Homo sapiens: one gene and its partners. The protein of the gene in region 1 binds, or shares a complex with, the protein of each later gene. Each region holds a gene or a part of one and is shown in the gene's direction. Other genes may lie near its edges.

Region 1 (3,751 bases):
GAGCTTCTAAGAGGCAGGTGTCAAACCCATGCCAGTCAGACTCTGAAACCTGAGGTCTGAATATTTTAAGCTCAGCTCCACAATTACTGTATTTGTTCTATTAGATACAACTGCAGAGAGAGGCCAAAGCTCAGAGCAGGCCATTGGCACGGCATCTGATCCTGCTTAACTGCCCTGCAGCACAGGGTGGAGACACTTGGGCCTTGTCAGGCTAAGGGACTGGGGTAGGATGGGTAGCAGTGGAATTGAAGACAAAGAAAACAAATGGGCAGAAGATGGGTGGGTGGAAGTTCAGAGGGCTATCCTGGCAGTGTTCACTGGAGCAGAAGTGTGAGGCTTTCTGAATGCCTGCTGACACCAGGGTGGGGCAGGGCTGTGTAGTGTGAGATGCACCAAATTGGACGAGAAGCCAAGGCAGGCTTGTGTATGGGGTACCCTGGGGCCCTCCGCCTAGTGAAGCCCTATCTTCTCAGCCCAGCGTCCTCGTCTCACAAGCCCTCAGAGCCCCAGCCTGCTTTCCTTTCTGGGCCTGTGCTGCAACCCCCTCAACATGGCCCACTGGGTAAAAATTCATGCTTCAAGACTGATCCCCAAGCCTGTTTTGTATTATATGAGTAAAGAATTTTTTAAACACTTATCCCCAGATAATGTGTATTTATTTATAAAGTATAGCCCTGTCTGCTTGACTAATATATTAAAAAAGTGACCTTTTTGACTCTTGGTCCAAGAAACTATTGTTTGCACTTTTGTGTAGTTGTGTATAGCATCCTGCAAATTCTGTCAGAAGTCTGTGATTTCAGTAACACTAAAACTTCTCTCTCAAATGGTACAAGTTTTCAGTTTTAAGACAAGTTCTGGGAATCTAATGTACAACATGTTGACTATAGCTAATAATTCTGTATTGTTTACTTGAAGTTTGCTAAGACAAATTTGCTTAAGTGCCCCCCCACCGAACTACTACATAAATTAGTGAAGGATGTTTTACTTAATTTGATTTTGGTAATCATTACACAATGTATAATTATATCCAGTCATCACATTGTACACCTTGAATATATATAATTTTTTGTCAAATAATAAAGCTGGGAAGAAAACGATAAAACTGACAATCTAACATATATGATGAGGTAAAAAGATCTGGTATTTCAAGAAATTTGGATGACCTCTTGCACCCCACTTCGCTAGCCTCTACTCCCTAGAGTCATGTTCTGACTATGTGAAGTTGAGCAACTTCCTTAATCTTGCCACGCTTCAGTTCTTATCTGTAAAATATGATAATGAAACGATTTGAGAATTGTGAGGGTTAAATGAGATAATTCAGGTAAAGCTCTAAACCCCCTGCAAAGAATAAAGTCTTTTCTTTCCCCCCAAAACTTGAGTGTTAGAATTCATTCTCTCTGGTTTCTCTCTTTTACTATGCTAAAAAATGATCCAGGTCCGTCCTTCTCATTGGCAAGATTGTTTTACAGTTTCCTTCAAGAGATAACTGGGGGCTACTTGTAATAGAACACTAGAAGAGTTACACAGGTCTTAGAAACTACGTTTTTCATAGTAATTATGTTGGTTTGCACTTCCTGGCTTCCTTTCTTGGACGGTAGGTACCTGGAAGCCTAGTGGAGCAGATTCCCCCCACTTAAAGATACTTATAAAAATAACGAACATAGTTCCGATGACCATGTGCCCAACACCGCTCTGCGCACTTCACACAGTAATATCATCTCAGCCTGTGACCGTTCCGAGTTAGGTGCCGGGATTCTCCCTGTTTTGTGATAACTTGCCCGAGGTCGTACAGCTAGCCAGCTATGGAACCAGTATTCAAACTCGGCTACGCTGCAGCCCGTGGCCCTCCACTTTCTTGCTCGTGCTCTGGAGTTTAGGCGGCCGATGGGGGCGGGGTCCTTTGGGTCAGGTTGTGGCCTCATAGAACAGCGCTTGCTGCGGTTGGATGGATGGGTGGGTGGGTGGGTGAGTGAATGAAGAGAAGAAACCTGGTGGCGTCGTCCCAGGGCTGTGGAGCGCCCCGAAGGTGCGCACGTCCCTGGCTAGCCTGCGAGCGCGTCCCGGTGGCCGCACCTGCCAGCCGCGCGATTCTTAGCACTCTCCGCCACTTCCGGCCGTGGCCCCGCCCTGTCGGGTGGCTGGCGTCCGTTACGCGTTGAGGCATTTTGTCCCCAGCGCCGACCCGTCTCTCTGCCCCCGCCGCTGCCATGGCGGCAGCTCCGCCGCTTTCCAAGGCCGAGTATCTGAAGCGTTACTTGTCCGGGGCAGATGCCGGCGTCGACCGGGGATCTGAGTCCGGTCGCAAGCGTCGCAAAAAGCGGCCGAAGCCTGGCGGGGCCGGCGGCAAGGGGTGAGTTGGTACCGGCCGGGGCGGGGCCTGCGACGTCTAGCCACCCCTTCCCAACTCCGCCCTCGGCCGCCCGGCAGTTCCTTCCCTCTTGGCGGGTCTCTCGGCTTCTCCGCCGACCCCTGCTCATGCTCAGGGCCCCACTCACATCGCTTGAGGCCCCCCGCCTTGCCTCTGCCGCCCCGCTTACATCTCGAGCCTCTGAGCAGTAGCGTCAGTGCGTTAAAGCCGGGGTGTAACTTTGATTACTCTTTTCCCGCCTTGGTAGACTTCCGTCCTCTCCCATAGAGAATGAATATTGTGCCTCGAGAATAATGGAGCGGATTCAAAGCCTCTGTGCTTGGATCTTTAGGGCCCGGTACCTGCCTGTGGGGATTCCCAGATCCCAAGGACTTGGTTCTGAATCAGAGACCTTTGATCACCTCCTGTTACTCTTAGTAATAGTCCTAACGTGAGAAGCTAACATTTATATAGTTATACTTTTCTTGCCAGGCACCATTATAAGAAATTTAAACATATATAAGTTTATTTAAGCCTCACCACACTACCATGAAGTGGGTATTATTTTCATATGGGACAACTTTGTGGCCCAGTGTAGTGGGCCCTACCAAATCGTTTTCCACCCAGAACCACAGAATGTGACATTTAGAAATAGGGTCTTTGGAGATGTAATCAGTTAAGATGAGGTCATACTTGATTAAGGTGGGTGCCAAATCCAAGATGACTGTTTGCCTTTTAAAAAGAGGGAAGTATGGATACAGACACAGCAACAAAGGAAAAACGACCATGTCTAGATGAAGGCTGAGATTGGATTGGATTTATGTTGCCAAAAGCCAAGGTATGCTTGGGGCTACCAGAAGCTGGGAGAGGCAAGGAAAGATTCTCTGCTAGAGACTTTCCAGGGAGGATGGCCTTGCAGACACCTGGATTTCAGATTGCTAGCTTCCAGAACTGCGAGAGAGTTTCTGTTGTTTTATGCCACGCAATTTGTGGTACTTTGTTACAGTAACCCTAAGGCACTGAGATACCCAGTGAAGTCACATTGTTCTAAAGAACTAGTCCAAGTTCTTTTCTGGTTTGGTGCTTGCCTTATTATTGTCTTCGTCTTTCTGCCTCGCTGACTTGTGTGGATCCTTTGGAGGCAGTGCCATGTGATGAAAGTAGCTTGAGTGTTGGAGCAGCACTGGTCAGAGTTCGAATCCTAGCTGTGCCACTTTATAGGCTGTGTACCCTTGGGCAAGGTGTTTCATCTCACTGAGCTGCAGTTTCCTTATCTTTAAAATGAGAATAATAATAATAATGGTTTTATTAAGTGGTGGTTGTGATTAGAGGGATTGCATTAAGTGACCCTGGCTTTTTGAATAACTTCACATCATGGCAGTCATTGTTATTATTTGGGCTCAG
Region 2 (3,751 bases), on another chromosome or scaffold:
GCATGCTAGTTTACCACTCTGCAATGGCTACTTCAACCCACAACTAAGCAACCTGAGATTCCTAGGAGCAGATAAACCCCATGTGCAATCTGTCACTGTTTAGCTTTCATTGCCAAGATAATTTTACAAAGTTAATGAATAGCTGGGTTGGAATGGGGAGGGGGGAACAGACACAGAATGAATGAGGAGGAACTGTCATTGGTGGGCAGCCTCTGTTCTCCTTCTTGGCAGGACATTGGTTACATGGTGGGCCACTTGAGGGTACAGTTGTTATCATCATCAAAATGCTTTTATGAAGGACCTAATATCTGGTGCTCTGAGTTAGGCCGCACAGCTCTGGACTTTCACTTTTAGAACATCATAGTCCAAGAGCAGGTATTGATGTGGACACATGCAAAATGGATTCAAACTGTCAATATGGGTTAAATCACATATTATACATTAATAATCTCTTCCACTGGTTTCTAGATATTTCTGGTTGAAATCTATCAAGCAAATATATCTTGTCCCCTTAATTATAATATTAGCTCCTTGAAGGCAGAGGACCCACCCTGATACTCCTGTCTACAGACCTTAGCTGTACAGGACAAATCTAGATGTTCAGTAAGGACTGATTAAATCAACCTGACCTGACGGGTGCAGGTAGAGTACCTTTCAAGTTAATTTATTCCTTTGAGCCTCATTTCTTCCTCTACAAAATGAGGGTGGAAATTTTTTTTCTTTTCTTTCTTTTTTTTTTTAAATAAAAAGGAGTCTCACTCTGCTGCCCAGGCTAGAGTGCAGTGGTGCGATCTCAGCTCACTGCAATCTCTGCCTCCCAGGTTCAAGTGATTCTCCTGCCTCAGCCCCCTGAGTAGCTGAGATTACAGGCGTGTGACACCATGCCTGGCTAATTTTTGTATTTTTAGTAGAGACAGAGTTTCACCATCTTGGCCAGGCTGGTCTTGAACTCCCGACTTCAGGTGATCCACCCGTCTTAGCCTCCCAAAGTGTTGGGATGACAGGCATGAGCCACCACACTTGGCCCCCCTTTTTTTCCCTTTATTTTAGAGACAGGGTCTTGCTATGTTGCCCAGGATGGTCTCGAACTCCTGAGCTCAAGCAATCCTCCTACCTCAGCTTCCCAAAGTGCTGGGATTACAGGCTGAGCTGCTGTGCCCGGCTAGGGATTGTAATTTTCTCTGCTTTATTGGGTTGTTGTGAGGGTGGAGAGACAATACATGTAAATTGCTTAGTACATACTCTAGCATCGTATAGTACATCATCTGCTCAATTGTTAGCTATTAATTTAACAATATTAATTTCTGCCTCCTGCTCAACTAGGAGAGAGCCTATGGAAAAGAGTAAGTGCAGCAGTTCTCATGCAAATGTGTAGGTATTCGATTCAGCCTATAGAAGCACACTGGTCTGTTGCCTATGTATTGGGATAAGGACAACAGAAGATTTACCTTTTCACCTATCTTCTTCACTTTTCTGCCATGACAGGGATGCTTTGATGGGTCTGTGCTTTAGCAACTGACTAGGAGCGAAGGTCCAAGTGGGACTCTGGACTGGGAGCGAGGGCTGAGACTAAAGTCGCCACATCAGGCTGCTTGTTCCGTTCACTCAGCAAATATTTATAGCTAATCTAACCAGTTTCAGATATCGTTCAAGAGGTGGGGGTCCTGCAACAGCCCAGGCTTGTGCCTTTACCCCATTTCACAGAGAAGAAAAAGCGAAAAACTAGAGAAAAACCACCTCTCCAAGAGGTAACCGCACGCAGCGCGGAAGGCTGCTAGTGCGCAGGCGCCACGCCCCGGTACGCCCCGGCTCTTCCGGCGCGAGGTCACCGAATCGACTGGCCACTGGCGCCGGGGCCGCGCATGCGCTGCGCTGCCTTTCCCGGGCGCTGATTCCTGAGTGCTGAGCGCGAACCCGAGGAGATGAAGTAAGGCGTCAGCTTCCTTTTGAGGAAGGAGCAGCGGGCCACTGGGGGTGGTCCACCGGGACTGGTGTGGTAGAGCGTCTGCGGGGCCGAGGGGCGGGAGCGGCGCGGGGACTGGAACAGCTCGTCCCCTAGTTTTGCTCTTCCTCAGCTCCGGCCGGTTCGCACTTACTTGTCTGCTTTTCTGCCTACCCTCCCCACCCCCCCCGCCACCGTGAAGCCCTTTAACTAAGGTGAAGCTGATCAACGAGCTGAATGAACGAGAGGTCCAGCTTGGGGTGGCCGATAAGGTGTCCTGGCACTCCGAGTACAAGGACAGCGCCTGGATCTTCCTGGGTGAGGTCCACATCTTTCTTCCTCAGTGCTCTCCAGATTCTCCTGCTCGGTTTCCGACTATTTCGGCATTTTCACCCTTCACTCCTGCTTACATTCATCGCCCACCTTCATATCCATCTGCTGTCTGCCCGGGAATCCGTGTTACATCTCTTTTCTGCCCCATTTTTAGTTTTCCTTCCCTGCCAAATCAGTGCTCATGAGAGTTACTGTTTGCCATTTGCTGTGCTAAGGTTCAGGGACTGTTGTTATTTCTCTCTCACCCTCTGACCCATTATACTGCTGAGGAAATTGGGGTGCAGAGAAGTTAAGGGACTTCCTTAAGGTCACATAGCTAGTAAGCGCAACAGGCAGAACTATAGCATTCTAGAACTCTTGGTCTTAGCCACAGCTCCATATTGCTACCACCACCCTCCCCCATTCCCCTTCCCTTCCAGAATTCACTTTGCTCCTCTAGCTCCTGCTTTCTAGTCCATGGCCACGTTACCATTACTGTATTCACTTTATATCACAATCAGTAATTGTACAAGTTTGATGCTTCAAAGAGGTTATTGTACCAAACATTGTGCTAAGCACTTTATATACATCGTTTTATTTAACTCTTATAATAATCTTGCGAGTTACGTGCTAATATCCCCATCTTACAAATGAGGAAATAAATATTTGGAGGGGAAATTATTCCCTAGGAAATGCTTAACAGTGTCTTTATAACCTTTGTCTATGTGTAGGTGGGGTTAATCATGACATATGTAGACTGATTTTGTATCATAGCTGTAAATTTGTGGGTAATGAGCAGATGAATTCAACATGTTTGTGGAAGCAGAGGTTTGTGATGGAAACTATCTGCTTTGTCCATAGGATTTTGGGTGGCAGGAGGACTGAGTGATCAGATTAGTTTCGTTAGTGGTGACCCCGACTTCCACTCAAAATTAATTACTCCTTTTTCTGTACTACTGGCACCTTACATGTACTTCTGTCATTGAGTCAGACTTAATTTCTTTCTTTCTTTCTTTTTTTTGAGCTGGAGTTTCACTCTTGTCGCCCAGGCTGGAGTGCAATGGCACGATCTCGGCGCACTACAACCTCTGCCTCCTGGGTTCAAGCGAGTCTCCTGCTTCAGCCTCCTGAGTAGCTGGGATTACAGGTGCCCGCCACCTCACCTGGCTGATTTTTTTTTGTATTTTTAGTAGAGCCGGGGTTTCGCCATGTTGGACAGGCTGGTCTCGAACACCTGACCTCAGGTGATCCACCCTCCTCAGCCTCCCAAAGTGTTGGGATTACAGGCGTGAGCCACGGTGCCCAGCCCAGACTTGATTTCTTTAAGGGCAGGGCCTGTTGCTTACTGTTTCCACCCCTAGTGCCTGGCCTAGTGCGTGGTATGTAGTAAACACTTGGTAAATGTTGGTGGAACTGAAATGTGGTTTTCTCTTCTAGGAGGGCTTCCTTATGAACTGACTGAAGGGGACATCATCTGTGTGTTCTCACAGTAAGTGT
Region 3 (3,751 bases), on another chromosome or scaffold:
AGCTTCCCAAAGTGCTGGGATTATAGGCGTGAGTCGCTGTGCCCAGCCTATGCTATTTTCTTTTTTTCTTTTTTTTTTTTTTTGAGATGGAGTCTCACTCTGTCACCCAGGCTGAAATGCAGTGGCACGATCTTGGCTCACTGCAACCTCCCAAAGTGATGGGATTACAGGCATGAGCGACTACACCCGGCCAGATCGTTGCTTTTGTCTGTAATGCAGCCACTAGAAACAAACCCCAAACTGGGACCACTCTCAGGTTTATATCTTTTTGTTTGTTTGTTTTCTAGAAGTGGATAGATTCATGCATGAAGTTTGGAATGCATTGAGTAATTCAACATTAATCAAGTAACTATTATGTGCCATTGGCACTGGGGGAGCACTTTGATTGTTTAGGACCATCTTCAGCATTGTACAATGTTTAGCATAAGTGGCACTACCTATAAATCCCAGTAGCGTCCCCATCCTACCCCCATTGTCTTAACTAGAAACACCTCACACATTTACAAAGGCACTGGGAGAGAGGAGTTAGAGGTGGCAGTGATGCCCTGTTTGACAATCACTGATTTTCCTGTTTTAGAAGAAATAGAAATGGACTGCATAATATATAAAATAGGATTTAAAAAATTTGTTATTCCAGAGACTGAACAGGTTATTGGATTTATGAATTTGGACTAAGATTTCTGATTTGCTTCCGAGAGGTCTGGTATTCTTCAGAAACGAGGGAGTTCTCACTGAAATATTAATAGTGAATGAGTAAGAATGGAAAATACTAGGTGTTAGGTATAAGAGGTGAGAAGAATCAGTGAGGATTCTAAGACGTAATATTCTAGGACAAGTCTAAGGCAATTCTCTACATGTGAAGTAAGTACTGTGTATACGACTTATTAGTCATACAAAATTGGGGATGAAAAAGTTTTTTTTAGTGTAAATCTTGATACAACCAAATGCTTTTTTTTTCCTAATTATGAAAGTGATAAATCTTTTTTTTTTTTTGAAACGGAGTTTTGCTCTTGTTGCCCAGGCTGGGGTGCAATGGCACGATCTCAGCTCACCGCAACCTCTGCCTCCCGGGTTCAAGTGATTCTCCTGCCTCAGCCTCCTGAGTAGCTGGGATTACAGGCATGTGCCACCACGCCTGACTAATTTTGTATTTTTGGTAGAGACAGTGTTTCTCCGTGTTGGTCAGGCTAGTCTCCAACTCCCAACCTCAGGTGATCCACCCACCTCGGCCTCCTAAAGTGCTGGGATTACAGGCATGAGCCACCACACCCAGCCAAGTGATAAATCTTGAAATAAAGGGCTTGGTGTATGTATTTTTCCCTCTGAAATAGTTATGTAAGAAATACTACATACAGGCCAAGTGCATTGGCTCATGCCTGTAATCCCAGCACTTTGGGAAGGTTGAGGTGGGAGGATCATTTGAGGCCAGGAGTTTGAGACTAGCCTGGGCAATATAATGAAACCCTATCTCTTAAAGAAACGAAATGTTACACACGTACTATACCCAAAAGAATGCCTTCAACGTATTACCCCTAAAAAACCGTAACAACTTTAAACTGACCCCATGATAAATTATATGTTATCTTGTTTGTATGATTTCACACACTAGCTAAGCTAGATTAGCGTTTTCTTTCTACCTCACATAGTGAATGTTTTGACAGGCTTATCCTTTTAGTCAGTCTAGTTCTTTGCCAGTTTTCTGTAATAAAATATCTGTTTCACAGATGAGTTACTACTTTATCTTGTTGACAAAGCTTATTTGTGCTTCTGATACTTTCAAGAGTATATTGTATTTTTCAGAAAACGCTCCCCAGCCCATTTGCCTCCTGGTACTCAGTTTCCTCAGCACATTTAATTCTCAGACTATAAAAATTTGGGGTTTTGGCCAGGTGCTGTGGCTCACGCCTGTAATCCCAGCACTTTGGGAGGCCGAGGCGGGTGGATCGCCTGAGGTCAGGAGATCGAGACCAGCCTGGCCAACATGGTGAAACCCCATCTCTAATAAAAATACAAAAATTAGCTGGACGTGGTGTCATGCGCCTGTAATCCCAGCAACTTGGGAGGGAGGCTGAGGCAGGAGAATGGTTTTAACCCGGGAGGCGGAGGTTGCTATGAGCTGAGATCACGCCATTGCACTCCAGCTTGGGCAACAAGAGCAAGACTTCGTCTCAAAAAAAAAAAAATGGGGGGTTTTATAATTAATTACTATGGAGGAATCTTGCTCTTCAGATGTCCTTCACTCAGCCTTGTGAGATACTAGAATCTTATTGATGCTCATTTGAAGGGTTATTAACTTTGGAATGCCCAAATAAGGAGCAGCAAATGACTCTTGTATGCTAAATTAGTATTGACACTTTATGTTGAACATACATGACTACCAGGGAGCCATTTACTTAGAATCCTTTCCTTATAACCGTTGCTATGGAGAAGTGATAAACTCCTCATGATTAACTCTTCATAGAATTGGTATTTTTTTCTTGTGTTGTTATATAATTTTCAGCTTAGGGTTGTATAGGTTTTTCCATGCTGAGAGGAAATAAGACTTTTGAGGTCAGATAGTAGCTGTATGATCTTAATGTACTGAACCTCACTCTTTTCAGTAGAGTGAGCTTTATGGTCCCTTCCAAAATCAACACTCTTAGAGTATGGTGACACTAATAACTCACATATCAGTAGTACGTGTTTTGTGCTAAATCATCTTAGGCTTTCTTACCTGATCCCTCTTCTCACTCCTGAGAAAAACAAGCTGGAGATTTTAGTGTATAGCCATGAGATAGTTTTTTCTGGGAAATCAGTAGCTTATAGAAAGTTCTGTACGGCCTAAAATATAAACTTATTTATTTATTCATTCATCCATCCATTCTTTAAAATAGAGATAGGTCTTGCCATGTTGCCCTGGCTGGTCTCGAATTCCTGGGCTCAAGCTATCCTCCAACCTTGGCCTTCCAAAATGCTGTGATTACAGGCGTGAGTCACTGTTCATGGCCTATAAACACCTTTAGCATGTAACAGAATATCTCTAAAATTCATTTATTTATTCATTTGTACAAAAAATATTGATCAAATATCTCCAGTCATTATTATAAAGCACAGGAGACACTTTTTTTTTTTTTTTTTTTTTTGGAGACAGTTTCACTCTTGTTGCTCAGGCTGGAGTGCAATGGCATGATCTCGGCTCACTGTCACCTCCGTCTCCTGGGTTCAAGCGATTCTCCTGCCTCAGCGTCTCATGTAGCTGAGATTACAGGCACCCACCACCATGCCTGGTTAATTTTTCTGTTTTTGGGAGAGACGGGGTTTCACCATGTTGGTCAGGCTGGTCTTGAAATCCTGACCTCAGGTGATCCACCCACCTCGGCCTCCCAAAGTGCTGGGATTACAGGCGTGAGCCACCGTGCCCTCCCCGTTTTTATTGTTTTAATACGGGAGACAGATAATAACCATGTAAAGTAGATAATTTCATGCTGTGAACAGTCTTGATCACAGTAAACAGTGCTATGGAGCAAATGATTGGGTGGGGAGGGGTTACTACTAAGGCAATCAGAAGAAGCCTCGATAATGGAGGACCTTTGATCTGAGACACACAGATTGAGAGCTTACTTGAAGAATGATAAACAGAACTCTGTAAAGGCCTAGAATTGGGGAAAAGTATGTTATGTTCAAGAAACAGAAGATGAGCTAGTGTGACTGAAGCATAATGAGTGAGAGAGTGAGAGTTGTAAGGGGAGATTGAAGGCATAGGCAAAGTCAG

What was found.
Region 2: BUD13 (region 1) and RBMX2 share a complex: the UniProt entries of both Homo sapiens proteins name them as parts of the activated spliceosome.
Region 3: BUD13 (region 1) and SNW1 share a complex: the UniProt entries of both Homo sapiens proteins name them as parts of the minor spliceosome.

The regions. Positions count from the first base shown.
Region 1 is NC_000011.10:116,771,421-116,775,171, reverse strand, and holds the start of BUD13 (BUD13 homolog), read left to right. Parts: upstream 1-2,184; 5' UTR 2,185-2,207; coding exon 2,208-2,350; exon of another isoform or gene 2,351-3,141; coding exon of another isoform or gene 3,142-3,185; intron 3,186-3,751. UniProt on the Homo sapiens protein: Involved in pre-mRNA splicing as component of the activated spliceosome. As a component of the minor spliceosome, involved in the splicing of U12-type introns in pre-mRNAs.
Region 2 is NC_000023.11:130,400,111-130,403,861, forward strand, and holds the start of RBMX2 (RNA-binding motif protein, X-linked 2), read left to right. Parts: upstream 1-1,876; 5' UTR 1,877-1,922; coding exon 1,923-1,927; intron 1,928-2,144; coding exon 2,145-2,260; intron 2,261-3,691; coding exon 3,692-3,743; intron 3,744-3,751. UniProt on the Homo sapiens protein: Involved in pre-mRNA splicing as component of the activated spliceosome. As a component of the minor spliceosome, involved in the splicing of U12-type introns in pre-mRNAs.
Region 3 is NC_000014.9:77,740,468-77,744,218, reverse strand, and holds part of SNW1 (SNW domain-containing protein 1), read left to right. Parts: intron 1-3,751. UniProt on the Homo sapiens protein: Involved in pre-mRNA splicing as component of the spliceosome. As a component of the minor spliceosome, involved in the splicing of U12-type introns in pre-mRNAs.